Linked DNA regions of Homo sapiens. The protein of the gene in region 4 interacts with the protein of the main gene of each other region in a pairwise test. Each region holds a gene or a part of one and is shown on either strand. Other genes may lie near its edges.

What was found.
Region 1: the proteins of SSX2IP (region 4) and TTC23 interact in binary tests that used the Homo sapiens proteins (3 or more experiments, as listed by UniProt).
Region 2: the proteins of SSX2IP (region 4) and AP1M1 interact in binary tests that used the Homo sapiens proteins (3 or more experiments, as listed by UniProt).
Region 3: the proteins of SSX2IP (region 4) and WRAP73 interact in binary tests that used the Homo sapiens proteins (3 or more experiments, as listed by UniProt).
Region 5: the proteins of SSX2IP (region 4) and C11orf54 interact in binary tests that used the Homo sapiens proteins (3 or more experiments, as listed by UniProt).
Region 6: the proteins of SSX2IP (region 4) and HDAC4 interact in binary tests that used the Homo sapiens proteins (3 or more experiments, as listed by UniProt).
Region 7: the proteins of SSX2IP (region 4) and ABLIM3 interact in binary tests that used the Homo sapiens proteins (3 or more experiments, as listed by UniProt).

What each region holds. Positions count from the first base shown.
Region 1 is NC_000015.10:99,239,582-99,243,081, forward strand, and holds part of TTC23 (tetratricopeptide repeat protein 23), read right to left. Parts: intron 1,979-3,500; 5' UTR 1,784-1,978; intron 1-1,783. UniProt on the Homo sapiens protein: Participates positively in the ciliary Hedgehog (Hh) signaling.
Region 2 is NC_000019.10:16,242,911-16,246,406, reverse strand, and holds the end of AP1M1 (AP-1 complex subunit mu-1), read right to left. Parts: 3' UTR 501-3,496; downstream 1-500. UniProt on the Homo sapiens protein: Subunit of clathrin-associated adaptor protein complex 1 that plays a role in protein sorting in the trans-Golgi network (TGN) and endosomes.
Region 3 is NC_000001.11:3,633,104-3,636,603, reverse strand, and holds part of WRAP73 (WD repeat-containing protein WRAP73), read left to right. Parts: intron 1-573; coding exon 574-660; intron 661-1,309; coding exon 1,310-1,444; intron 1,445-1,529; coding exon 1,530-1,607; intron 1,608-3,100; coding exon 3,101-3,206; intron 3,207-3,500.
Region 4 is NC_000001.11:84,662,962-84,666,461, forward strand, and holds part of SSX2IP (afadin- and alpha-actinin-binding protein), read right to left. Parts: intron 3,272-3,500; coding exon 3,161-3,271; intron 1,592-3,160; coding exon 1,456-1,591; intron 1-1,455. UniProt on the Homo sapiens protein: Belongs to an adhesion system, which plays a role in the organization of homotypic, interneuronal and heterotypic cell-cell adherens junctions (AJs).
Region 5 is NC_000011.10:93,751,672-93,755,171, reverse strand, and holds part of C11orf54 (ester hydrolase C11orf54), read right to left. Parts: intron 1,491-3,500; coding exon 1,417-1,490; exon of another isoform or gene 1,413-1,416; intron 1,237-1,412; coding exon 1,135-1,236; intron 1-1,134. UniProt on the Homo sapiens protein: Exhibits ester hydrolase activity on the substrate p-nitrophenyl acetate, in vitro. Regulates DNA damage and repair by regulating HIF1A degradation via chaperone-mediated autophagy (CMA).
Region 6 is NC_000002.12:239,114,521-239,118,020, forward strand, and holds part of HDAC4 (histone deacetylase 4), read right to left. Parts: intron 791-3,500; coding exon 533-790; intron 1-532. UniProt on the Homo sapiens protein: Responsible for the deacetylation of lysine residues on the N-terminal part of the core histones (H2A, H2B, H3 and H4).
Region 7 is NC_000005.10:149,242,493-149,245,992, reverse strand, and holds part of ABLIM3 (actin-binding LIM protein 3), read right to left. Parts: coding exon 3,455-3,500; intron 1,113-3,454; coding exon 978-1,112; intron 1-977. UniProt on the Homo sapiens protein: May act as scaffold protein. May stimulate ABRA activity and ABRA-dependent SRF transcriptional activity.

The DNA.
Region 1 (3,500 bases), on a different chromosome or scaffold from region 4:
CACCCTGTTGTACAGAGACACAGTGCTATTTGAGATCCTAAGATGTTGGCTAACTTTTTTCTAATAACTTCTTGCCTTATGCTTCCTCATCTGTTCAACCCCACTGGCTGATAAGATGACCATTTCAACAGGTGCTGCAGTCTAGGGAAAGAGCAGTAGCCAGAGATGGAGAATCTGAGATTCAAGAACCTGTGCTGTCCCAACTACCCATGTGATTTGGGCAATACCAACTAATATATACATAACACTTTATACTTTCACATGTTTTATCTCATGTGGCCCTTACAACCATGTAAGGTACAGAGGGTAGCTATTATCATCCCCATTTTATAAATAAAGACGATGAAATGAACCTAAATCAGTTGCACATCACACAGCCAGAATTAGCACCCTGGTCTTCTCATAATTTGGGGGTTTCCCATGACATCATCCTGCCTTTCACTGACCACAGTCTACAGCAGTGGGAAGCAAATGCTGTTGCTTTGGAAACCTAAGCCTGCATTTTAAAAAGTGATCATACATTTTTATAAACAGGAATGCAACATCTTCAATAGATTTAACTATATTTTCTTATCTTCCATTTAGTGGGAGGCAGAAAAGAAAGTTTAAAGATGAAATAAGTAAGAGGCCCTGCAGTATTTGTTATTCTGGGCCTCTGAACCTAGTGTTAAACTTCGAAATGGATTTAACTTTTCTTTTTTGGCTTAATTGTAAAAACTGGTTTGTCTCATGCTGCCTCTTAATATTGCATCCTTAAAAGAGAGGTTATATTTATTCTGAGCACTCATAGGCTCATCTAACTTGTATATATATATTTTTTTTCGCCAGTTAAAAAAAATTGAGCCATCATTTTAAAATTAGGAGTTTCACATGAAGATGTAGATTTTGGGGTTTCTGACTTCCTTTGAAAACTCAGAACACTTGTCAACACTAGATCTATGCCACCACAGGCAATAATCAGCTAGGGAAGAGGGGGAGCTGCCCTGGGGGCAAGGGTACTCTCCAGTTTGCCTGTTGCCACCAATCCCTATTGGCTACCGGACATGAAGGCAGCAAAGTCGTTCCCATTTGTCATTGTTCTTGTGTCTTATTGTAGGAAAGTAGGTCTCTGTATCCATTTCTCTCTTTCAAAGTGAAAGGCCAACAGAGAAGGATATAATTTTCCTGGCCAACACCACTCATTTTCTGTTATTTCGTCTAATCTAAAGCACCACTGACTATAAAGATGCTGCTTTTTTATACACCATTTGACTTGCAATTGTAACGTTCACTCTAATTTCAGAGATGTTCAAATGCCAAAAAAAATGTACGTCTCTGAATCAATGAAAGGAGGAGGTATGCTACCTGTCTGGCTTCTAGAGGCATTTGAGTCTGTGGCCTTACTTTAAATGTATGTGTTTCAATGTATGTGGCATCACACAGTAACATCCTCAACATAAAAACATACTTCTCAGGCAGGGCGCGGGGGCTCATGCCTGTAATCCCACCACTTTGAGAGGCTAAGGCTGGCAGATCACCTGAGGTCGGGAGTTCGAGGCCAGCCTGACCAACATGGAGAAACCCTGTCTCTACTAATACAAAAAATTAGCCAGGTGTGGTGGCACACACCTGGTAATCCCAGCGACTCGGAGGCTGAGGCACAAGAATCGCTTGAACCTGGGAGGCAGAGGTTGCAGTGAGCCGAGATTGTGCCACTGCACTCCACCCTGGGCAACAAGAGCGAAACTGTCTCAAACAAACAAACAAACAAACAAACAAAAAACATGCTTCTCAGTTCACTTACTTTGAGTTACATGCTTATCATCAGCCACTTTTCTTTGTAGTAGCTATAGCTGGGGCTTAAAATTTCATCAGACATCAGCCCAGGTCCCACAAACCATCCTCTTCTTGCCAGCCGTGGGTTCAGCTTTCTAGGTCTCTGAATCACAACTGCCAATGAGACCTACTCAGTCAGTTGATACTGTTCCTTCTGCCAGACCTGCCCAGTAGAATGTTAAAGCACATAATCAGCCCCAGATCAGGGTGTTAGGAAGAAGAGGTCTGAAGTGGAGTCTCAGTCTTCCAAGTGGTGATGTTCAAAATAATAACTGAAATAGCAGGAGGGCCAACCAATCTATATAGGTGCCAACTAGGCTGGAGCTCAGTTCTGAAGGTCCCCTGCTTTTCCAGGTGTGAACCGTTGGAGGCTGACTTGTGGAGAGATGTAGGGGAGCCTGAGGAAGGGGCAGGGGCCCTCAGGGCAGTGGCTTTTAGGAAATAAAAAACCTCATCAATCAGGGACGGTGGCTCATGCCTGTAATATCAGCACTGTGGGAGGCTGAGATGGGTTGATGGCTTGAGCCGAGGAGTTCAAGGTCAGGCTGGGCAACATGTCAAAACCCCGTCTCCACTAAAATTGCAAAAATTAGCCGAGTGTGGTGGCGCTCGGCTTCTCCAGCTACTTGGGAGGCTGACGGGAGAGGACTGCTTGAGCCCAGGAGGCGGAGGCTACAGTGAGCTGAGATCACACCACTGCACTCCAGCCTGGGTGACAGAACAAGATCCTGTCTCAGAAAAAAAAAAAAAAAGTTAAAAAAAAGAAGCCATTATGACTAGTTTCTTAACTAGTGAAAGTGTACGCTAGTTAAGAAGCAAACTTACCCATATGTAAGCTAACGCACTGGAAAAACACTCTAAAAAGATAAAAAATACCAAAAAAATAGTGATAAAAAAATAACAGAAAAATAGAAAATCTGAATAGATCTATAACAAGTAAAAAAATTAAATTAGTAATTAAAAATATTTATACAAGGTTAAGCCCAGGCTCAGATGGCATCAGTGATGTATTCTACCAAACCATTAAAGAAGAAACAACATGAGTATTTTGAAAACTCTAACAGAAGATAGAGAAGGAAACTCTCACTTGTTCTATGAGGTCAGTATTACCCTGATACCAAAGCCAGACAAAGACATCACAAGAAAATAACAAATGAATACCCTTCATGAATATGGACACAAAAATCCTCAACAAAATATTGGCAAACCAAATCTAGCAACATATACAAAGGATAATACATTATGATCAAGGGGAGTTTATCCTAGAAATGGAAGGTTGGTTTAACATCTGAACTCATTAATATAATACACTATACAGTAGAATGTGGTCACAAACCATCTGATCATCTTGATAGATGCAGAAAACACATTTGGCAAAATCCATTATCCAATCATGATTAAAAAAACTTCCCCAACCTGATAAAAGGCTGATAAAAGCCTGATTTTACAAATCAAAGTGGATTAAAGACTTAAATATAAGACCTGAAACTATAAAATTACCAAGAGAAAACACTGGGGAAACTCTCTGGGACAGTGGTCTGGGGAAAGAATTCTTAAGAAAGATCTCAAAAGTACAGGCAACCAAAACAAAAATGGACAAATGGGATCACATCAAGTAAAAAAGCTGCTGTATAGCAAAGGAAACAATCAACAAAGTGAAGAGACAACCCACAGAATGGGAGAAA
Region 2 (3,496 bases), on a different chromosome or scaffold from region 4:
TTTTCTTTATTGAGTGTTTCTTTTCCATTTTCTTTGTATCTACTCCCTATTATTTCCTTCTTTCTGTGCTCTTACATTTATTTTGTTGTTCTTTTTCTAACTTCTTGAGATGGAGGCTTAGATCATTATTTTAGCCTTTATATATGTATATATGTGTACACATTTAATATCTACTCATATATATTTCTTTCTTTTTGAGATGGAGTTTTGCTCTTGTTGCCCAGGCTAGAGTGAAATGGTGAGATCTTGGTTCACTGAAACCTCCGCCTCCCAGGTTCGAGTGATTCTCCTGCCTCAGCCTCCCGAGTAGCTGGGATTACAGGCACATGCCGCTGTGCCCGGCTAATTTTTGTATTTTTAGTAGAGATGGGGTTTCACGATGCTGACTTCAGGTGATCCACCTGGGCTGGCCTCCCAAAGCGCTGGGATTACAGGCTTGAGCCACCTCGCCCAGCCTAGAATTGTAACTCTCAAACATTCAAAGGAAAACAATGACTTTATTTTTATTTTTTAAATTATTTATTTATTTTAGCCCCCTGCCTTTTTAAATATAAGCTCTCATCATTCAAGCAATGACTTTTTTTAAAAGCCACAAACAATCTGTAATAAATCCAGAGAGGACATAAAAGAGAACATAGAAAGGACAAAAATAGAAAACAAAGTAAGACGGTAGATTTAAATTTATACTTAAATGTAATATCAGTTATTACATTAAATGTAAAGGGACTTAATGCTCCAGCTAAAAGTCATTTTGTCAAACTGAATTTTAAAAATTCCAACTCTACGCTATTTTCCCCCCCAAATGCTGTCACACTCCTAGGAACAGAGAGGTCATTCTGGGTGGAATTCTGGTCTCCCCGCACTTTGGGAGGCCGAGGCAGGTGGATCACTTGAGGCCAGGAGTTCTAGACCAGCTTGGCCAATATGGTGAAACCACAACTCTATAAAATTACATAAATTAGCTGGGTGTGGTGGCGTGCACCTGTAATCCTGGCTACTCAGGAGGCTGAGGCAGGAGAATTGCTTGAACCCAGGAGGTGGAGGTTGCAGTGAGCTGAGATCACGCCACTGCACTCCAGCCTGGGCGACAGAGTGAGACTCTGTCTCAAAAAAACAAAACAAAGAAGAAAAGCAAAGTTACAGTGCTAAAATAATAAAAATGTTTTAGCTCCCTTAGATAGTAAAATGCATACTTATCAAAATGCAGATTTGGCTGGGCGCAGTGGCTCATGCCTGTAATCCCAGCACTTTGGGAGGCCGAGGCGGGCGGATCACCTGAGGTCGGGAGTTTGAGACCAGCCTGACCAACATGGAGAAACCCCGCCTCTACCAAAAATACAAAGTTAGGCAGGCCTGGTGGCGCATCGTGTAATCCCAGCTACTCAGGAGGCTGAGGCAGGAGAATAGCTTGAACCCGGGATGCAGAGGTTGCAGTGAGCAAAGACCGCGCCATTGCACTCCAGCCTGGGCAACAAGAGCGAAACTCCGTCTCAACAACAACAACAACAACAACAACAACAACAAACAACAAATTTTATCCATGTTATTTATTTATTTATTTATTTATTTTGAGACGGAGTCTCGCTCTGTCGCCCAGGCCGGACTGCGGACTGCAGTGGCGCAATCTCGGCTCACTGCAAGCTCCGCTTCCCGGGTTCACGCCATTCTCCTGCCTCAGCCTCCGGAGTAGCTGGGACTACAGGCGCCCGCCACCGCGCCCGGCTAATTTTTTGTATTTTTAGTAGAGACGGGGTTTCACCGTGTTAGCCAGGATGGTCTCGATCTCCTGACCTCGTGATCCGCCCGCCTCGGCCTCCCAAAGTGTATCCATGTTATTTATTCTCCTCCCAGACAGTCATTAACTTGGAACATTTTAACTCAGTTTACTCCCTGCAGACTTTTTTTCCTGTTGTATAATTCTATCACTTAAAAAAACTCCAGAAACTGTTTATGCAATCTTTGTCTAGATTTTCTCATGTATTTTCTACTTCTTTGCTTTTATTTCTTCTTGCATCATGCCCTTCCGTCTGAGATCACTTTCCTTGTGCCTGATGTGAGTACACTGTTTACAATTTTCTTTAGTGTTAGCCTGCTGCTGGCAAACTCTTTCGTTATTTGTCTGCAAAATGTTTTTACTGTAACCTCATTCTTGAAATACTTTTGCTGGGTCTCTGATTTGGGTTAGTGGTTTTCTTTTAGCATGTTGAAAATGTCACCCAACTGTTTTCTGGGTTCCTTTGAAAAGCCAGCTGTCTGTCTGTCTGGTTGTCATGTCTGAAGGTGATGTGTCTTTACCTCTGGCTGCTTTAAGTATCTTTTGCCTTTTTCCCCTTTGTGAATGTTTTTGCTGAAGTGTAACATATACACAAAAGAGTGTGCAAATCATCAATGCTTGATGGATTCTCGAGAGCACACCCATGTCACCTGCATCCAGATTGAAAAATATTCTCTAATTATTTATTTGGAGACAGACTCTCGTTTCGTTGCCCAGGCTGGAGTGCAGTGGCACAATCTCAGCTCACTGCAACCTCTGCCTCCAGGGTTCAAGCCATTCTTGGGCCTCAGCCTCCTGAGTAGCTGGGATTTACAGGCGTGTGCCACTACACCTGGTTAATTTTTGTATTTTTAGTAGAGATGGATTTTCGCCATGTTGGCCAGGCTGGTCTCGAACTCCTGAGCTCAAGTGATTCACCTGCTTCAGCCTCCTAAAGTGCTGGGATTATAGACATGAGCCACTGCACCTGGCCATTCTCTAATATTTTCTAACTTCCATTATATTTTCTTCTTTGACACATGGTGATTGAAAAATGTGCTTTAAAATCTCTCATATTGGCTGGGCATGGTGACTCACACCTGTAATTCCAGCACTGTGGAGGCTGAGGCAGGTGGATCACTTGAGCCCAAGTGCAAGACCAGCCTGGGCAACATGGCAAAACTCCATCTCTACTAAAAATACAAAAAAAAAAAAAAAATAGCTGAGCTTGGTGGTGCTCACCTGTAATCCCAGCTACTTGTGAGACTGAGATGGGAGGACTATTTCAGCCTAGGAGGCCAAGGTTGCAGTGAGCTGACATCGTGCCACTGACTGCACTCCAGCCTGGGCAACAGAGACCCTTTCTCAAAACAAAAACAAAAACAAAAACAAAAACAAAAACAAAAAAAACCTCTCATATTTGGAAATATTTTAAAGTAATTTATTTCTTGTTGAATTCTAACTAATTTCTCTTGAAAATTCCTCAGAGAGTGGGAACTCTAATAATAATTCTTGGAGTTGTGTGGAAACTTCTCGGGGATCTAATACATTTTTTCTTTTGCTTTCTTGCTTTAAAGTCTATTCTGGCCGTGTGTGGTGGCTCACACCTGCCACTAGCACTTTGGGAGGCCAGTGGGGGTGGATCACCTGAGGTCAGGGTTCAAGACCAGCCTGGCCAACATGGCAAAACCCTGTCTCTACTAAAAATAAAAAAAATACAAAAATAAAAAAATTTAGCCAAGC
Region 3 (3,500 bases), about 81 Mb from region 4:
ACATATGAACACGATTCCAGCACAATCCATCATTAAGGTAGAGCAACCTCTGGAATGCTGTCAGAGTGCAGAACCCGGGATCCAGGCAGTGCTCTGGAAGGGACTTGTCTGAGCTGGGTCTAAAGGAGTGAGCCTGGCCAGGCAAGGAAAGGTGAGGGGGAGAGTGTGCACATGAGTGCAGGTGCGGGGAGACCAAGCCACCTTCGGGGGCTGGCCAGGCAAGGAAAGGTGAGGGGGAGAGTGTGCACACGAGTGCAGGCGCGGGGAGACCAAGCCGCCCTCGGGGGCTGGCCAGGCAAGGAAAGGTGAGGGGGAGAGTGTGCACACGAGTGCAGGCGCGGGGAGACCAAGCCGCCCTTGGGGGCTGGCCAGGCACTGACGCTGGCATCTGTGGCGGTGCAGCCCCAGCAGCAGCTCTACAGGGATTTCATGCATTTCCAGGATAGAGCTGTTGAGATTTTGTCAATTTCTATATAAGGAAATTAAGTGCGTTAAGAACATCAGTCATAAATGCAATTATTTATTTACGAAAATATTTTCCAAATTTAATGTTTCCCCCCCTTCCTTTGGAAGCATTTTGATACGGACACCCAGGATCTCACAGGGATTGAGTGGGCCCCAAACGGCTGTGTGCTGGCAGTGTGGGACACCTGCTTGGAGGTATGAAGATGACCAGGTGACATGTTTGCTTTCGAGAGCTTTTCCCGGAATTTCATGCTTTCTGAATGCTGCAATATAGTTTGCTTTATCTTATTTCAGATAACAAGTTGAGCTTTGTTTTAAAAGACAGGGTCTTGCTCTGTCACCCAGGCTGGAGTGCAGTGGTGTGATCACGGCCCACTGCAGCCTCGACCTCCTGGACTCAAGTGATCCTCCTACCTCAGCCTCCCAAGTAGCTGGGACCACAAGCATGCACCACCACGCCCGGCTAATTTTTGTATTCTTTGTAGAGATGGGGTTTCACCGTGTTGCCCAGACTGCTCTTGAACTTCTGTGTTCAAGTGATCTGCCAGCTTCGGCCTCCCAAAGTGCTGGGATTACAGGCGTGAGCCACAGTGCCCGGCCGAGTTGAACTTTTATCAGCGAGCCATTAGGTTGACCTCCCAATTTCCCCTTTTTCCTCATGCTCTCACTGCCTCTCCGTGACTATCTCAGTACTAGCTGGCAGTTCCAGCTTTTCCACGGCCACGCGGACAGTCCTGCCAGCTTTGTGCTATCTGCACCAATGTCACTCTGCAGCACCCGCGTCTGTGGTGTGTTCCTGGCGACGGGGGTGTATTCATTATTAACTGAAATGTCTCATCTGCAGTACAAGATTCTGCTGTACTCATTGGATGGCCGGTTGTTGTCCACGTACAGCGCTTACGAGTGGTCCCTGGGCATCAAGTCTGTGGCCTGGAGCCCCAGCAGTCAGTTCCTGGCAGTTGGGAGCTATGATGGAAAGGTGGGAACCAGTGCAGGGCACTCAGGAAGTCCGACCGCCCAGCGGGCCGGGCCCTGCCTCACCTGTGCATGGTTTCCTTCCTCAGGTGCGCATCCTTAATCACGTGACTTGGAAAATGATCACGGAGTTTGGGCATCCTGCAGCCATTAATGATCCCAAGATAGTAAGTCTGGAACACGTGTTTCTGCCTGAGCAGGCTGTTGGGGAGGGCGGTGGGAAACTGCTCCTTCACTTTGCTTTCTTGATTGTGGTTTATTATTTAACCGGGCACTTCCATCACCGTAAACTTGCTACTGTGACATTTCACGCGTCTGGCCCTGCCCTGGCCTTTGTTCTTCCTCCTCCACGCTGCCCAAAGGGTCTGAAGTGGGCCTTGCCCTGGCCTGTCCTCTGCCGCTGCCACCCCAGTCCAGTTTTCTCCTTTGTGGTCTGTCTGGATGCAGATCCCTGTGCTGTACAGAGTGGCCAGGGTCTCCTGCCCCCAAACACTGGGCATCTGCTGTCGTGCCAGGCACTGTGCTCTGGGCCGCAGCCAGAGAAGAAGAGACAGACCCCTGCACTTGCAGAGTGCGGCTGGAGAGACAGGGAAGGGGCTGGAGAGCTGGGTGTCTCCACGGGGTGGCAGGGAGTGGCCACCAGCGAGGGATCGCAGGCACAGATGCTGCACCAGTGATCAGGGACTCGGGGAGGGAGCGTTCCAGGCCAAGGGAACAGGAAATGCAAAGGCCCCGAGGAGTGGGCCACGCATCCATGTGTGCAGCGGGCACTGCGCTGGGAGCCAGAGACAAATGCTGCCCTCCTGGTGTTGACCTGTAACCGACAGAGCTGAGTGAAAGGCGGCTTGGATTCGATGAAGAGGCCAGTGAGTGGCTGGGGCTGCGCATGCCAGATCAGCCACTGCCGGGGATGCATCCTGGAGGGGTGTTTAAGTGAAGACCAGGAGGAGGAGCTGCGCGGTGTCTGGGCAGAAAGGGTGTTTCAGGCAGAGGGGCCTCCTGACGTGGCCAGTGGCTTGTGTGGCTGGAGGCCAGGGTGTCTGGACAGGTGAGCCCGAGCAGGGCTGGCCACACAGGTCCTGAAGGTTTGCCTGTGATTCCTGCATTCTCCAAATCCCTTCGCCACACAGCAGCAGAGCATGCTTTAAAGGCATGAACCAGGCCAGGTGACTCCCTTACCTGGGGCTCTTCAGGGGCGTAGGGGCTGCCCGCCTTCCACTGAGCCTGGGCCGCTGTCCTTTGCTTGCCAGGCTCTCGGGCACAGATGCCCCCACCTCGGGTCTGTGTCTGCTGCTCCCGGGGCCTCTGCTGTGTTGGTGCAAGTGTTCTCTGTATCCTCTTATCACGGAGGGAAGGCTGAGCCCACTCCCTTGCTGGATGATGGTGGCTGCAGTGGTCTCCCGTCTGTAATCACAGGGCACACATTTGCTGCCTGTGTCTCAAAGGGTGGGCTCCTCAGCAGGACACGAGAGAGGGTGGCTGGGTGATCTCAGCTCTCGGGACTGCGGGGTTCGTGCTTCCGTCTCTCCCGGTGGCAGCAGGACCAGCTGTCATGGCAGGCACACCTGTTGACCATGCGCTGTCATGGGCATTTGCCACGTCCATCCTTGGCTTCCGGGTCCCTGTCCTGAGCCGGGCGTGGCCACCTTGTGTCTTTCAGGTGGTGTATAAGGAGGCCGAGAAGAGCCCACAGCTGGGACTGGGCTGCCTCTCCTTCCCGCCGCCCCGGGCCGGGGCCGGCCCTCTCCCGAGCTCAGAGAGTAAATGTAAGTAGCACATGTGATGTCATTTGTTTTCCTTTTTTAATGCAAGATTCCTCGTTGTCCAGATAAACTTCGGATGTTCCTTATGTTTAAAAAAAAAAACTTTTTTTCCCTTCCATGCTTCCAGCCAGTGTGCCCCTCAGCCTGTTGGCTGGAGGTTGACTAGGGTCTGAATTGCGCAGTGGGCCGTGAAGGTGCGGCTTCTGTTACTGAATATGAGCCCTGGAGACCCGGATCTGACAGCGGGAGCTCCGAGGGGATGTTTTTCCGGAGCTCCGAGAATGATGTTTTTCAAAG
Region 4 (3,500 bases):
CCACATCTACTTGTTTATATACTGCCTATGGCTACTTTTCTTGTTACAATGGCAGAGATAAGTAGGTGCAACAAATAAGTTGTAGATCCCATAAAGCTGAAAATGTTTACTATATGGATCTATACAGAAAAAGTTTGCCATGTCCTGTTAACATTAACATCATCATTTTCATCAAAGGAGTCAAAGCCCCTGATAGTAGTAATATCTTCTGCTGCAGGTGGACATGGAAACATTTGGCGTAAAAAGGAAAAAGAGTAAATTATTATAATCTTAGAGTTAATAAAATCATTATGAAACTGTCACTTCCGATTGGACCAGGAAACAGCCAGACCGCTATAATGGAAGAGCTCTGTTTCCAGAACTAAATCCTTAATAAACTTCTCTGTGTTACACTTTATACTTTCAGCATTTCATCCTGCTTTTTAATTTTTTTCCTTCATGAATGAATATGAGGCTAACTAAACTTAAAAACCAATGATTCTCCAAATGAGTAAGATTAACTCAGGATACCTAAAGATTTCCAATCTTAACGGCGCATTACTGAATCTTCATTTCTATTTTTCAACAATTTAAAAAATAAAGTATTCAGATACCTCCAACAGCTCTGCTGCAGAATGACAGTGATGTAGTCAACACTAAACTGCTTGCTGACAGCAGGCAGAGTCTACCACATGACAGCCTGAAACGTACGCTCATCGCCTGTTTTTCAAATCTAAGGTAAGACAGTTTAGGGGTGTCACGGTATAATGTATGTTAGAGGACTACCTATAGTCACTAGGAAACCACTCTTCAATAAATAAATACACACACTTCTTGTGCCTCGTATTTATACCAGGCCAGCAAAACTGTATTGTAAAGCTCTACTTTCGTGTTTCTTTGCTTTTTAATTTACACTATCTACTTGAAATTATCCACATATTTGGATGAAATGGCTTAAAGTTTTGAAAAAGACTACTATTAGGAAAAAAGTATACCTTAGACACACACACGCCTAACTTTTATAGTCCATCCTTTTGACTAGCTGCTCCAAAAATGTACAGCTAAACTTATTTAAAGGAACTCAAACTGACATGAACGATTTGGTCTGATGAAAAATTTTATGAGGTTTACTCTAAAATACTTCTTTTGATACTCAGAAACTGACACTGATTTTTAATATTATCAGTTCTTTGCTATGGAAAATTAGAATGTCCTCTGGCTTAGTTTTCCTCTATGGATTAATTCTACACTGGTCATGTTAAAAAATACATGCAATTAAATAAAGCAAGGCAGAATGACTTACTTTCCACTAACCAGTTGTCTACATTTTTTATATAAACAAACACCACTGAAAATCAATTGTATAAAGCATGAAAATAACATTTCGTGAGTTACTGTGTTCAATCCTTTTACAATTATTTCTAAGCATAGTATTAGCTTATTTATTCTCTTAGCTGATCTTTGCCAGCTGTTTACCTATTTTCTTATCTTTCTTGTTCATAACAAGTTGATGTAGACGTTCCTTCAGTTTATTATATTCACGCTCTTTTCTCTTCATATCATGATTATACTGAGTAGCTCGACTTGCAATGATATTTTGTAATTTTTGCACCTGAAAAAGGCATTTGCTATTATAAGCCCAGTAACGATTCACAAATTTGAAAGAGAAAAATCCTAAAATTCATCTCCCCATATAGGTTTTAAAATCCTAGGATGATTCTTCCTTATTTGTAACCAGTAGAAACCACTTTTTTAAATATTATATGAATCACATAAAGTTTTTTTAATTCTGAAATTTCCAGAAGCGCTAATTTTCTAAATTATCTCCTATACCTTTTACCTTACATATAGACTCTGATCATTTAAAAACCAGATATTCTTATGGAAGTATTAAAACGATTAAAACTTCATCTGAGATAAACAGAATTCATCTGATCATTTTTAGTGAACTCCTTGTATTACTGACTTACAATCACTTATACTTTTTATTAATCTGTGACAAAGTGAATTAAGCCTGTGACACATGGCAGCAGGTAAGCAGGCTCGTTTTTCTAATTAAAAACAATTCTCGAGTAAGAGTAAGTCCAAACAGCAGAATAATCCAGTCCAAATATTTGCTGAGTATCTACTAGGTGCCAGACACTGCTGTTCAAAATTTAGATCTATTATAGTTTCTCAGGCAACTCCTGACAGAGTATGTCCTATTCTTTTATAAAGCCATTCCCAGTCCCTGCTAGGGATCAACATGATTAACTTAATCCCTACCGAAGATGAGCTGTATTCAAACCGTTTAAATATAATCAACAGATCTAGTCAAAATTGTCTGTGAACTCAAGGAAACACGTACAAGCAACCTTACAGTTTAAATACTAATTACCTACTACTTACTAAATATACTACTAAATAAACAAATATGGTAAAACAAATCTATCTAAACCACTCCAGGGCGCTTTAAAGAAATACACTCCTCAGAAGTCTTTAATTGTAGTTAAAACAACATATAAAACACTGAAACTAAGTATTATATTTTTATAGTTATTACATGGTCAGGGGTCATACTTTAGAGCAATAAAAACATAATAGTTTCTTTCTACACAAATTAAAAAATATATTTTGAAATGCATTAGTGCTATAGGTCCAAGTAACCACTAAAGTAGAAATTAGAATTCTGCTAAGTAACCACTAAAGCAGAAATCAGAATTGTATCTTTTGTGTCAGAAATTAGATTTTTAATGTGAACTGCTTCTGTGCCCATTTAATGAAGAAACTGGTTGACTAGACGAACAATGTCAATATTTAAGACAGTGCATGCAAGAAGGGGCACCTCAGCTATCACGTACAGGTACAGCAGAGAATAAAAGATCTGCATTTAAAGCACTCTTGTGCCTAAGAAAAAGTGACAGTGAACATGAGTCCAGGAAGGGCAGTCCAGGACACTGGCTGTTACCAGCTATGAACTAATATCTAAGCCAAATGGATCCACTGGGGGCGGGGTCTGTAGTGGAGAGGGTTCCTGAGCTTCCAGTTAAATACTATTACACAAAGGTCCACCATATCAATTTGGGGAAAGATGAATAAATGGTTCTTTCTTTTTTCAAGTAAAGTGGCTCTTATGGTCATCTCATATTACAAAGAAAACAAAAATTCACTTAAACTTCATCTGCAATAACTGACAACTCACCTCATCTTTCTCATTCTTTAGTAGCTGATGCAAATTCCTGTTCTTACATTGTAACTGTCTGTCTCTTTCCTGAAGCCCAATCATTTCCCTCCTGGAGGTTTCCAGTTGTTCCTAAAACATTTATAAGCAATTTTGCTTAAAATTAATAAAGGATTTAGAATAACTGAATCCTTAAAATATCAGTAACAAGAAGTTATACATCCTAGTGTTTATTAGTCAAAATCAAATGTTAGTGGCACATGAAATGTTTATTTAAAGGAATTATTACAAAGCACACTATAAAATAACATTTAAACTTACACATCAAATTTTAATCTACATATCAAATTTTGTACACATA
Region 5 (3,500 bases), on a different chromosome or scaffold from region 4:
TCTGCAAAGAGAATATCTTGAATAATGTTACAAAACATTTAATCCTTTTAAGACATTTTAGTTCAAGTCCTAATAAGAGAACATAAAATACATAATATTTAATTTTAGACATAAAAAACTTGGAAAACATTTATAGGCCGGGCGCTGTGGCTCATGCCTGTAATCCCAGCACTTTGGGAGGCCAAGGGGGGCGGATCACGAGGTCAAGAGAAGAGATCAAGACCATCCTGGCCAACATGGTGAAAACCTGTCTCTACTAAAAATACAAAAATTAGCTGGGCGTGGTGGCACACACCTGTAGTCCCAGCTACTCAAGAGGCTGAGGCAAGAGAATTGCTTGAACCTGGGAGGTGGAGGTTGCAGTGAGCCAAGATCGCGCCACTGCACTCCAGCATGGCGACAGAGCGAGACTCCATCTCAAAAAAAAAAAAAAAAAAAAAAAAGATATTTATTGGATTTCTTACAGTGTATCTATAACTTGCGTTAAATATCTTATTTTAAATTTTTAACTTTTTTTCCTAACTTGAACACTAGGCAAATTGTACTAATGTTTCTGCAAAGAACTTGTATGACTACTATTCATATCTGAAGAGGTTATGAGAGAATGAGCAGACTGAAGTCTTGTATTCATGAGATTCAAAGAAACAGTAATATTTTCATATGGTAATAATATATACTAGTAATAACTATTAACTTTCATAAATAACCATCATACTATTGTGATAGTTTCCTACTATTTGGTGTGGAAGAAGGAGTTGACTAGATCACTAATATTCCATTCATCTTCTAATCCAAAGCTGCCTGCATACCCAAAGCAAAGATTTATAGATAAGCTCGGAATCCTGTAAGAATATAAATATTTTATAATCCAGAACCTTCAACAGAATACCATAGAACCCTGCATTTATCTAAGGCTGAAGCTATGACCTAAGAAAATCTAAAACTACAAGTTAGTACTCCATTACAGTTAGTCCAGTTGGAGTGTGTGCTATAGCAGAAATCTACATCAAGTAGTATCAAACCTGCAGAGAGATTTACAATTCACTCAGAAAGTAGGATTTTTGGCACTAAAAGCAAAAAGACAAACCAAATGTCAAACCAATAAAGTAAAATAATTTTCTTATATATGCTGACCTCAGAATTGAACCCGAGAGTCTGAAATGGACCTGCTCCTGCTCCAAGAATAAAGGCTCCAGGCAGCTTGATTTCTTTTGCAATTTTATTCAGATCATAAACCTATAGAAGAGGAAAAAATATTATTTAAGTCACAACTTGTACAAAGTCCCTGGTTTACCTTTTATTACTGATCCATTAGCACTTCCTTGCCAACTGATCAACAGGTCTTCTAATAATAAACACAGTAATCAACCCAACTTCTACAATCTTCATGTGAATATGCAGAGTAAAAGTACTTACTTTTTTTTGGTTTACAAGAGGCAATAAGTAAGGCACACCTCCAACTTCTGCAATTCTAGTTTTCCCACAGATGCCTAAGAAAAAACCAAAAAACAAAAACACAAGCCACCTTAAAAACAGGCAAACATCTAATTTAATAATAAAATGCCAACAGTATATAACTTCTCCATTATCATAAAGTTTTACAAATAACAGGGATTGGAAGACATAGTGGCTAGAACCCCTGTCCTATTTTAAGTACCTGTGTCTCTAATAATCATCATAACCAAGCATGGCTTATAAAGTTGGTGGCATAAAGGCAATACAAGGCAAGGGCAAGGGTTAGAACTGGGGCCAAAGTTTGGATTGGGTAAGGTTTCTAGAATGTCTTTGACGCCTTATTTCTTTAAAAAAAATCTATTTTGGGGTGGTTTTCCTTTTTTTGGCTAAAATTGTTTCTTGTTTTTTAATTTAAAATATTTTGCTCTGGTACAATGTAAATTCTCAGATGGTGGCTCACGCCTGCAATCCCAGCACTTTGGGAGGCTGAGGCGGGTGGATCACCTGAAGTCAGGAGTTCGAGACCAGCCTGGCCAACATGGTGAATCTCTACTAAAAATAGAAAAATTAGCTGGGCATGGTGGCGGGAGCCTATAATCCCAGCTACCAAGGAGGCTGGGGCAGGAGGATTGCTTGAACCCGGCGGGGGCAGAGGTTGCAGTGAGCCAAGATTGTGCTACTGTATTCCAGCCTGGGCAACAGAGCAAGACTCTGTCTCAAAAAACAAAACATCACGAGGTCAGGAGATCGCGACCATCCTGGCTAACACGGTGAAACCCCATCTTTACCAAAAATACAAAAAATTAGCCGGGCGTACTACTCAGGAGGCTGGGTGTACTACTCAGGAGGCTGAGGCAGGAGAATGGTGTGAACCTGGGAGGCAGAGCTGGCAGTGAGCCGAGATCGCGCCACTGCACTCCAGCCTGGGTGACAGAGCGAGACTCCGTCTCAAAAAAAAAAAAAAAAAAAACCCAGAGAGATCTAGGTGAGATGTACAAATTTCAAAGTTATATTCAGGTAGTAATTAAAACCATAAGAGTGGATTTAAAAAATACCCAGATAGATTACTAGAAATAAGAAGAGGCTAAGGAAAGAATTCTGGAAAAGATCAATATTTAAGAGACTATTAGAAAGAAAAAGGAACCAGGAAAATATGGAAGAAAAGAGGAAGGAAAGGCACAAAGGAAGAACAGGTGAAACAAGGATAGAGAAGATAGAACCTAGGGGAGAATGTCAGGCAGCAATGGCCAAGCAGTATGAAATACGTGGAGAGGTTAAATAGTACTAGTAAACATTTTAAGGTCACTGGTGATCTTAGCAAGACCAGTTCATGTAGAAAATGTCTAACACACCACTGCATCCAGCTAATTTTTGTACTTTTAGTAGAGATTGGGTTTCACCATGTTGGCCAGTTTGGTCTTAAACTCCTATGTTTATGAAAGATCATACATACACATATTAGATGCATATCTGGCTTCTAGTATTGCAATTTAAAGACTCACAAATTACTGACCAGAAAACACTTCTTCCAAGCATAACTCTGCATGACAAAATTAAGACTAACCATTTTGGCTGGGCATGATGGCTCACACCTGTAATCCCAGCACTTTGGGAGGCCGAGGCGGGCACATCACTTGAGACTGGGAGTTCGAGATCAGCCTGGCCAACATGATGAAACCCCGTCTCTACTAAAAATACAAAAATTAGCCAGGTGTCGTGGTGCACACCTGTAATCCTAGCTACTTGGGAGGGTGAGGTATGAGAATCGCCTGAACCCGGGAGGCAGAGATTGCAGTGAGCCAAGATTGTGCCACTGTACTCCACACTCCAGTCTGGGCGACAGAGCGAGATTCCATCTCACACACACACACACAAAAAAAAAAAAAAAAAAAAAAAGATTAACCATTTTTCCTTCTTTCTTGTACTCTTCTGTCTCCTGACCTTTATTTAATTTTAGTTAATTACTTAATTAGCAGGGGAAATACATTACACTCATATTTTTAAAAAAATCAAGGCTGGGCGTGGTGGCTCACGCCTGTAATCTC
Region 6 (3,500 bases), on a different chromosome or scaffold from region 4:
TCATCAGTCTCCTGTGAGTTTGGTTACTGGGTGTCAGTGCCCTGAAGCCTTACTGGCTCTGGGTGCCACAATCGCACCCGTCTGTCTGGATCTGCAGGGCTGCTCATTAGCACCTCTGGGTCACAAAAGGTCTTGACTTCTGATCAGGCCCTGCCTGCCTTTTTGATCAATTAATACCTCTAGTTCCTTCACTTCTTTAAAAAGCATGCTGTATCTCACTAACACATGGATTCTGTGTTCATTTACAGCCTACAGACAGGAAGGAAATCCATTCTCTGGGGCCTGCGCATGGCTGGAAAGCAGTTACGTAACCACCCACAGGGGGCAAACATCTCGTATCCCTAGGAACGGCTGGGACAAAATGGAAGCCACATCAACCTCCCTCACTGGCCAGGACAAGACAGGTGAGACACTGGACAGTGACCGCGCAAGGATGCCCTGCAGCCCCCGTGATCACCACAGAAGATGCCACCTGGGGACCGAGGGTGGCTGTGCGTGCCAGCCTTCTGGTGCCCTCCCCGCCTGCGGTCACCTGTCTGAAGAGCAGCTCCTGCTCACTGGGCTGGCGCTGGCCCGGCTCCACCTCCCGTGGGGGCTCTGCCTCTTCCTCATCGCTCTCAATGGGCTCCTGCTTCACCTGCACGCCGGCCTGTGCGTGCGCCTCCTTCTGCCCCGGCAGCCGGTCCAGGTAGGGCTCGTCCAGCAGAGCCTGGTGCTCACGGAGCTCCTCCTCCGTCTCCTCCGGGTGGCTCTCCGGCTGCCGGGCTGGCTCGCTTGGCTTGGGGATGATCTGCAAGGCGGAGGTAACACATGAAGCACAGAGAGCTGGGTCCTCTGAGCTCATCTGACAGGAGAAGGGATGCTGCAAACCCCACCCTCTGGGGCAGACAATCAGGGACTCAGGGCACCTTATCACCCTGCCACAGGCCAGCAGGCACCTTTATCTCCCAACAGGCACTGGGGTGCCTGAGTGCCTAAGAAAATAATGCCCAGTAGGACCCCAGCCCAGGGTCAAGGTGACCTGGCCCAGGGAAGGAGGCTGACTAACATTTGGGGTTTACTAAGCACCTCTTCTGTGTCAGGCACCGAGAAACAGAAAAGAAGCTGCAGGTGTCAACAGAGTCTGCAGAGGAGAGCTTGAGTGTGAAGGGGAGAGGCCAATGCTGACCTCACAGCCACAACTGCTAAGAGAAACAGCCCACCACCCACTCAGCGGAAGACAACCACGTCCACAATGCTCACTGCCCAATCCCACCAACACGCCACGGCCTCCCCTCCTGCAGGATCCCACCGATGTGCCATGACCTCCCTCCTGCCGGATCCTGGGAACACTCCAGGACCTCCCTTCCTGCTGAATCCCAGGGATGCCACGGCCTCCCCTTCTGCAGGATCTCAGGGACACCATGACCTCCTTTCTTGCAGGATTCCATGGGTGCTCCATGACCTGCCCCGCTATGGGGCCCCAAGAACCGCAACATCCTCCCTCCTGTGGGACTCCCTAGATGCCCCCGACCTCTTTTCCTGTTGGATCTCACGGACGCTTCTCGGTCTCCCTCCCCGGCCTCTCAGTGCGGAACAGGCGGCAGGTGCTCCTCTCCTGCTCCCCGCCTGCTCCTCCGTCTTGGTTTGTCCTGGGCCTGCTCCTCGGCTCATTTCCCCATTCTGGATTCCAAGTATCAGCGACTCCCAAAGGTGGTGCTGAGCCCAAACTCGCTCTTTACCTCCAGACCTAATGGCCTGCCAGACGCCTCAGCTTAGCCTAGAGTGCCCATGAGCCCCAGCACAGCAGGTCCAATGCCGAACGCAGGGCAGCTTCTTCCAAGCCTCTCCCTTCTCTAGGACCTGTTCTTGGCTATTGGGACCTCTCTCTGGCCAGCTGTCCAGTCACACCCCAAGCTCCCAATTCTGTCCGCCAAGCACTGCCCATGCATTGCTCACGAGAAACGCCTCTGGACGGTGCTGCTTCTCTCCAGCCTCGACCTCCTGCCTTTCCTGCTTTGCCCCACCTGGCCTCTCCTGCCTGGATGACAGCATGGCTCCTGGGAGGCCCCCACCTCCAGCGTCAACGCTTTGCAATCTTCTTCATGTAGCAGTGAGGGCACGCTTTCAAACGGGCCAGTGGACCTGGTCACTCCCCTGCTGAATGTCCCCCAAGTGCTCTTCTGCCATCCTGCCTCTGCTGAAGAGCCCCTCCATCGTGTGGCCATGTTGCCCCTGCAGCCTCCCTGCCACCCTGCTCCCGACCACGCCGCTGGCTCTGCATCCCTCATGCCACACTCGCCTCCAGCCCGCTGCTTGCCTTCCTTCCTCGGCCTCCAGCCACTCCAAGAGGCTTTGTGAGCCTCCCGTGCATGTCACCTTTTCCAGGGTCAGCTGATCTTCCTGATAGGGCAATGTGCCCTCCTCCAGCACCCCCCGACCCCAGTCCTCTGGCTTTTCTGTGGTTGCCATTCATGTATCCATCTTTCCTGCAGTCTGCAGTTCCCAGGAGGGTAGGGACCACTTCTGACTCATCCACGTGGCACAGGCATTGCTCATCGCACATTCACTAAAAGGATGGGGCAAATGCAAGGGGTGTCCGCGTAGTGGGGCAAAGTGGAACAGGGTGTATGGCTGACCTCAATGCGCTCTGGGAGCTGTGGGAAGCCAGCAGGGCTGCAGCGTGGAAGGCCAGAGAACAGGAACACAGGGTGCCGGAGACGAGGTGGGGCTGTGGGAAGGGCACTCTGGGCTGAAAACAAGCAGGTGCACGTTCTAGAAGCATGCCCTGCTGCAGACAGGCCAGAGGTTGAAAGGGTGAGGCCAGCCCCACGTCTGGCTAAGGCATGGGAGAAAGAACAGGTTTCCATGACACCAAAAAGGAAGCAGCTCTAGGCCCAGGGACAGACTGCATATGGAGAGGCAAGAGAGGGTGGCCAGGACAACTCCTTCGTTTTGGGCAATGGAGCTGCCCCATCACATCTGGGAGCCAGAAAAGGGATGAATGTGAGCAGAGCAAAGGCTGGAGTTGAGAACAAGAGGGGAGAGAGGGATGCGGGAAGTGGCAAAAAAAAAAAAAAAAAAAAAAGCTCAGGAGAGAGGGCGGGGGTCTGGAGTTAGACTAGGAAGGGCGCACAGGGAGTTTCTCAGAAGAAGGCACTGACTGAGCTGCATTCCTCTGCAGACTGTGAAAGAACGTCCCACAATCCCAAAGTCCCAGATCGAGGGGTCTCTCCGGATGCTCGATTCATCTGTCCCCGTGGGGAACGGCCTGAAGGGCAGATTCGAGGGACGGTGGGACAAGCCGAGTTCCTGGCAGAGAGAGGAGCTACAGCGCGTGGAGGATGGATCTCGGCACCGCATCCGACTGTTTCCAGAAGGAAACTGAGGTGTGCAAGGAAGACTGACACCTGAAATCCCCCGAGCCCTTGCATTTCAACACCCTTAGAGCACTGCATGCTGCTCCACACTCACGCGAGGCGGCCTCTCCAGCAGCCTGAACTACGGGGCACGGGTTGGTG
Region 7 (3,500 bases), on a different chromosome or scaffold from region 4:
AGAAGAAGTGCTATGTTGTCCAGGCTGGTCTCAATTTCCTGGGCTCAAGTGATCTTCCCAACTTGGCCTCCCAAAGTGCTGGGATTACGGGCGTGAGCCACTGTGCCCAGCACCAAAGAGTCATCTCTGAGCTTCTGTGAAGCTTTGCTCAGAATGGACATTGAATTAGTAAAGACATTGAATCAGAGTGGATCTTGATGGGGGGAAAAATTTCCCCCCATACTTGAAAGGAACAGCTTGGGTTGTATGATTGGGTGAGGTGGTATCTGAGGACCACTGAGACCCCTTACCAGGAGCCTTCCACCTCCCCACATCCTCTCTTTCTCCATCCTCCCAACCATTTTTTACCCTACAGCCAAAGTGGTCTCTCAAAAGCACAAATGTGATCATGCCACTACTTTCAATGTGATCATGCCACTCACTGTTTAGGATAACAACCAAAATCCTTACCTCAACCCTCAAAACCCTGGGGGACCTCCTCCCTCACCTCTACTGCTTCTCTTCCTCTCTGAGTTCAAGGTTAAGTGGACAGCCTTTTCTTTCCTCCAGTGGAATCCTCTCTCACATCCTGGGTCTTTGCAGAAGTATTTCTACACTCTCTGCTGTGTTACATCCTTGCCACCCTCCTGATGGCAGCTGAGTGGCTGCATTGAGAAACTTTTGTCATCTTCAGGCTGGACAGCAGGCCCCTGCCATCAGCTCTCCTACCTTCTGCGCATCACCTCCCTCTCATGGCTGGGGCCTATGTCTTCTCCACAAGGGCAGGGACCTGGTCTGTTTTGCTCCCCAGTGTATTGCTAGGGTCCATGGCCAGTGTTTAGTACATATTTGTTGAATGAATAAACACCCTTAGTTATAAACCCTCTAAGCACTCTTATTCAGAATGATTGTATAAAGGAGTGGGCAACTGTTCTGAACACCCGTGTCCTTGGCACAGGTGTTAGGGCCCTGGACCCAGGCTCCTATGGGGGTACTACCTTTGGGGGACCCATGGTAGGTCCAGTACTCAGACTCCGAAGCATAGTAGGGGTCTGGCGAGTAGATGGGACTGTACTTGGAGGTCTGGCTGATGTCTTCACTTGTTTTGCTCTTGGTTGCTGTAGACAAATCACCTGCAGAGGACCCAAGGAGAGCACTTCAGGAAGGCAGAGTGACCGGGATGGGACTGTGTACCCTTTTCCTATCTTTACCAGGCTCCAGCCCAGGGGAGTGAGTCCACTTCAAGATCAGGGCTCTCTGTTAGAACTGGGCCATGGAGCATCGGAGCTGGAAAAGCACTGGGGCCAAACCCTCATTTTGCATTTAGTAATTGGAGCACCAGAGAGGGGAAGGGGCTTGCTTAAGACCACATAGCATGTGAGCACCAGAACTGGACCAGATCCCAGCCCAGGGCTCTTTCCAGCACATTCCATGGATTCCCAGGTCTGTTCCAGAATGACCTCTAAGGGTGTGGCTCCTCAAATAAGACTGGACAGGTCCCAGGTGAGCCCCAGCCCTTTAGAAGCCTTCCTAGCCCTTTAGAAGCCTTCCTTGTTATAAATTTGAACTCCATCATTTCTCACAACCTGAGATGCCACATTCTGCTCAGGGACTACATAGCCTGAAGGAAGGAGTGCTAGACAGGGAGTCAGCAAACCTGGGTTCTGGTCCCAGCTCTGCCACTTTACTCAGCTGTAACACTGGGCAGGTCCTACCATCTCTGCCTTAGTTTCCTCATCTGTAAGTGTCAGAATCGGTCTGCTGGCTCAGCTGCCATCCAGCTTCAAGCTTCCACCTGAAGTAAGCCCAGGACAGGGGTGACCAAAAAGACCCACTGCAGTCACAACTACTTACAGAGCAGTGACTTCTCGTGGCCCAAACGTGGGTGACAGGCTGGTAGAGCAGAGAGAGGGGCTGGGGAAGTGTGTGTGGCTGCATGACCATTTCTCATGGTCAGCTACAGGAAGCTTTAGGGACAAGCTCTGTGCTCTGTGGAGCCAGAGTGGCAGAGCGTGGTGGATCAGCTTCAGCCAGCCCTGGGCTATGCAGCCCCCACAACAGCACTTGCTTCCAAAGCTTTCAAATTCTTCTCTTTGACTTGGGTCCTGGGCAGCCCCTCCTGGCTGACTGCATTTAGCTTTTTCCTCCGCCCTCTTTTCCAAGCAACCCACCTCCACCCCAGACTCCTCTTGAGTCTGCTTTAGTGCCACCCCTCAGGGCCCACCTGGAAAATCCCACAAAGTCCTGAGAAGCTTGTGACCTGGGGGCCTTTTCTAGGTATAAAGCCAAACTACCTTTGTCATGTTGGTGTCTTTCTATGAGTACTCAGGGGACATGGCATGTCCTTCACAAGCTGGTACAGACTTGCACATGCTCACAGACTCACCTCGGACCCCCCTGCTCAGCCCCCTCTGGAACCAAGGATGTCTGTATAAAATGTAGAATCTTAGGCACCCAGAGCCGCTGTTTAAACTCGTATTGTCCCCTCCACCAGCTAATTAGTTCAGAACCTGGTGCAGGACTGCTTCGCTCATCTCCAAGCTCCACCGATTCTGGGCCTCCTTTTGTTATCCAGCTAGACCCTTAAGCAAGTGTGGGTGCACAGGGTGGCAGCTGCTCCTCTGCAGCTTCAATGGAAGGGATGTGCTCCTTCAATCGAGGCTTAGTAAGTACTTTTTGCAAAAGTGAACAGGTGGTGTCAGTGATGAATGACTTGGTGGTTCTCATACTAAGTGCAGGGAGGAATCATGGACAAAGCCAGTTATAGTGCAGATTCTTAGTTCACACTCTCAATATTTATAATTAAGGGAGTCTGGGGCAAGGAAGGGGCCAGGGAATCTGCCTTTTAAATGTCTCTCAGGTGCAGATGGTCCATAGATCATTCTTTAAGAAACACTAAATCAATGAATGAATGAAAGAAGGAAGTCACCCTCTGCAACCTTACTCATCTACATCTCCTCTGCAAGTCTCCATCCACTCTCAGGAGACTGTGACTGAGAACAACTTACAGCAGGGGTTCCCAAGTTGGGCTGAGTATCAGAATCACTTGGAGAAACCGTGACACATACAGAATTCGAATTCAGTAAGCCTGGGGTGGGGCCCAGGAATCTGTATGCATCCCCTGTTATTCTAATGAACATTTCAAGTATTAATGCCTTGGAGTGTGACTCTCCCAGGGGCATGTGCGTTTTACAAAGGTTTTACCAATTATGGAACTTAGGATGACAGAGAGCAGGTAAGGGGGAGATTGCAAAGGTGGTGGGAAAGAACTGAGGGGACATGAGGACTTTGTTCTTTTGAAATGATACCAAACTCTGCCCTAATGTCACCCTGGGTGATGGGGCAGTCAACAAGAAGGACCAAGATGCAGCCTTGTGTTTTGTGGCTCCTGGTGGCCTGTGCAGGGCCATCTGCATAGATGGTTAACCTCCCCCCTCTCCTTGTGTGGCCAAGCCCTATCTACCTCTGACCATACCATGCCGTTTGTAGATCGGGGGTTTCCGGTAGATGTTACTGTCTCC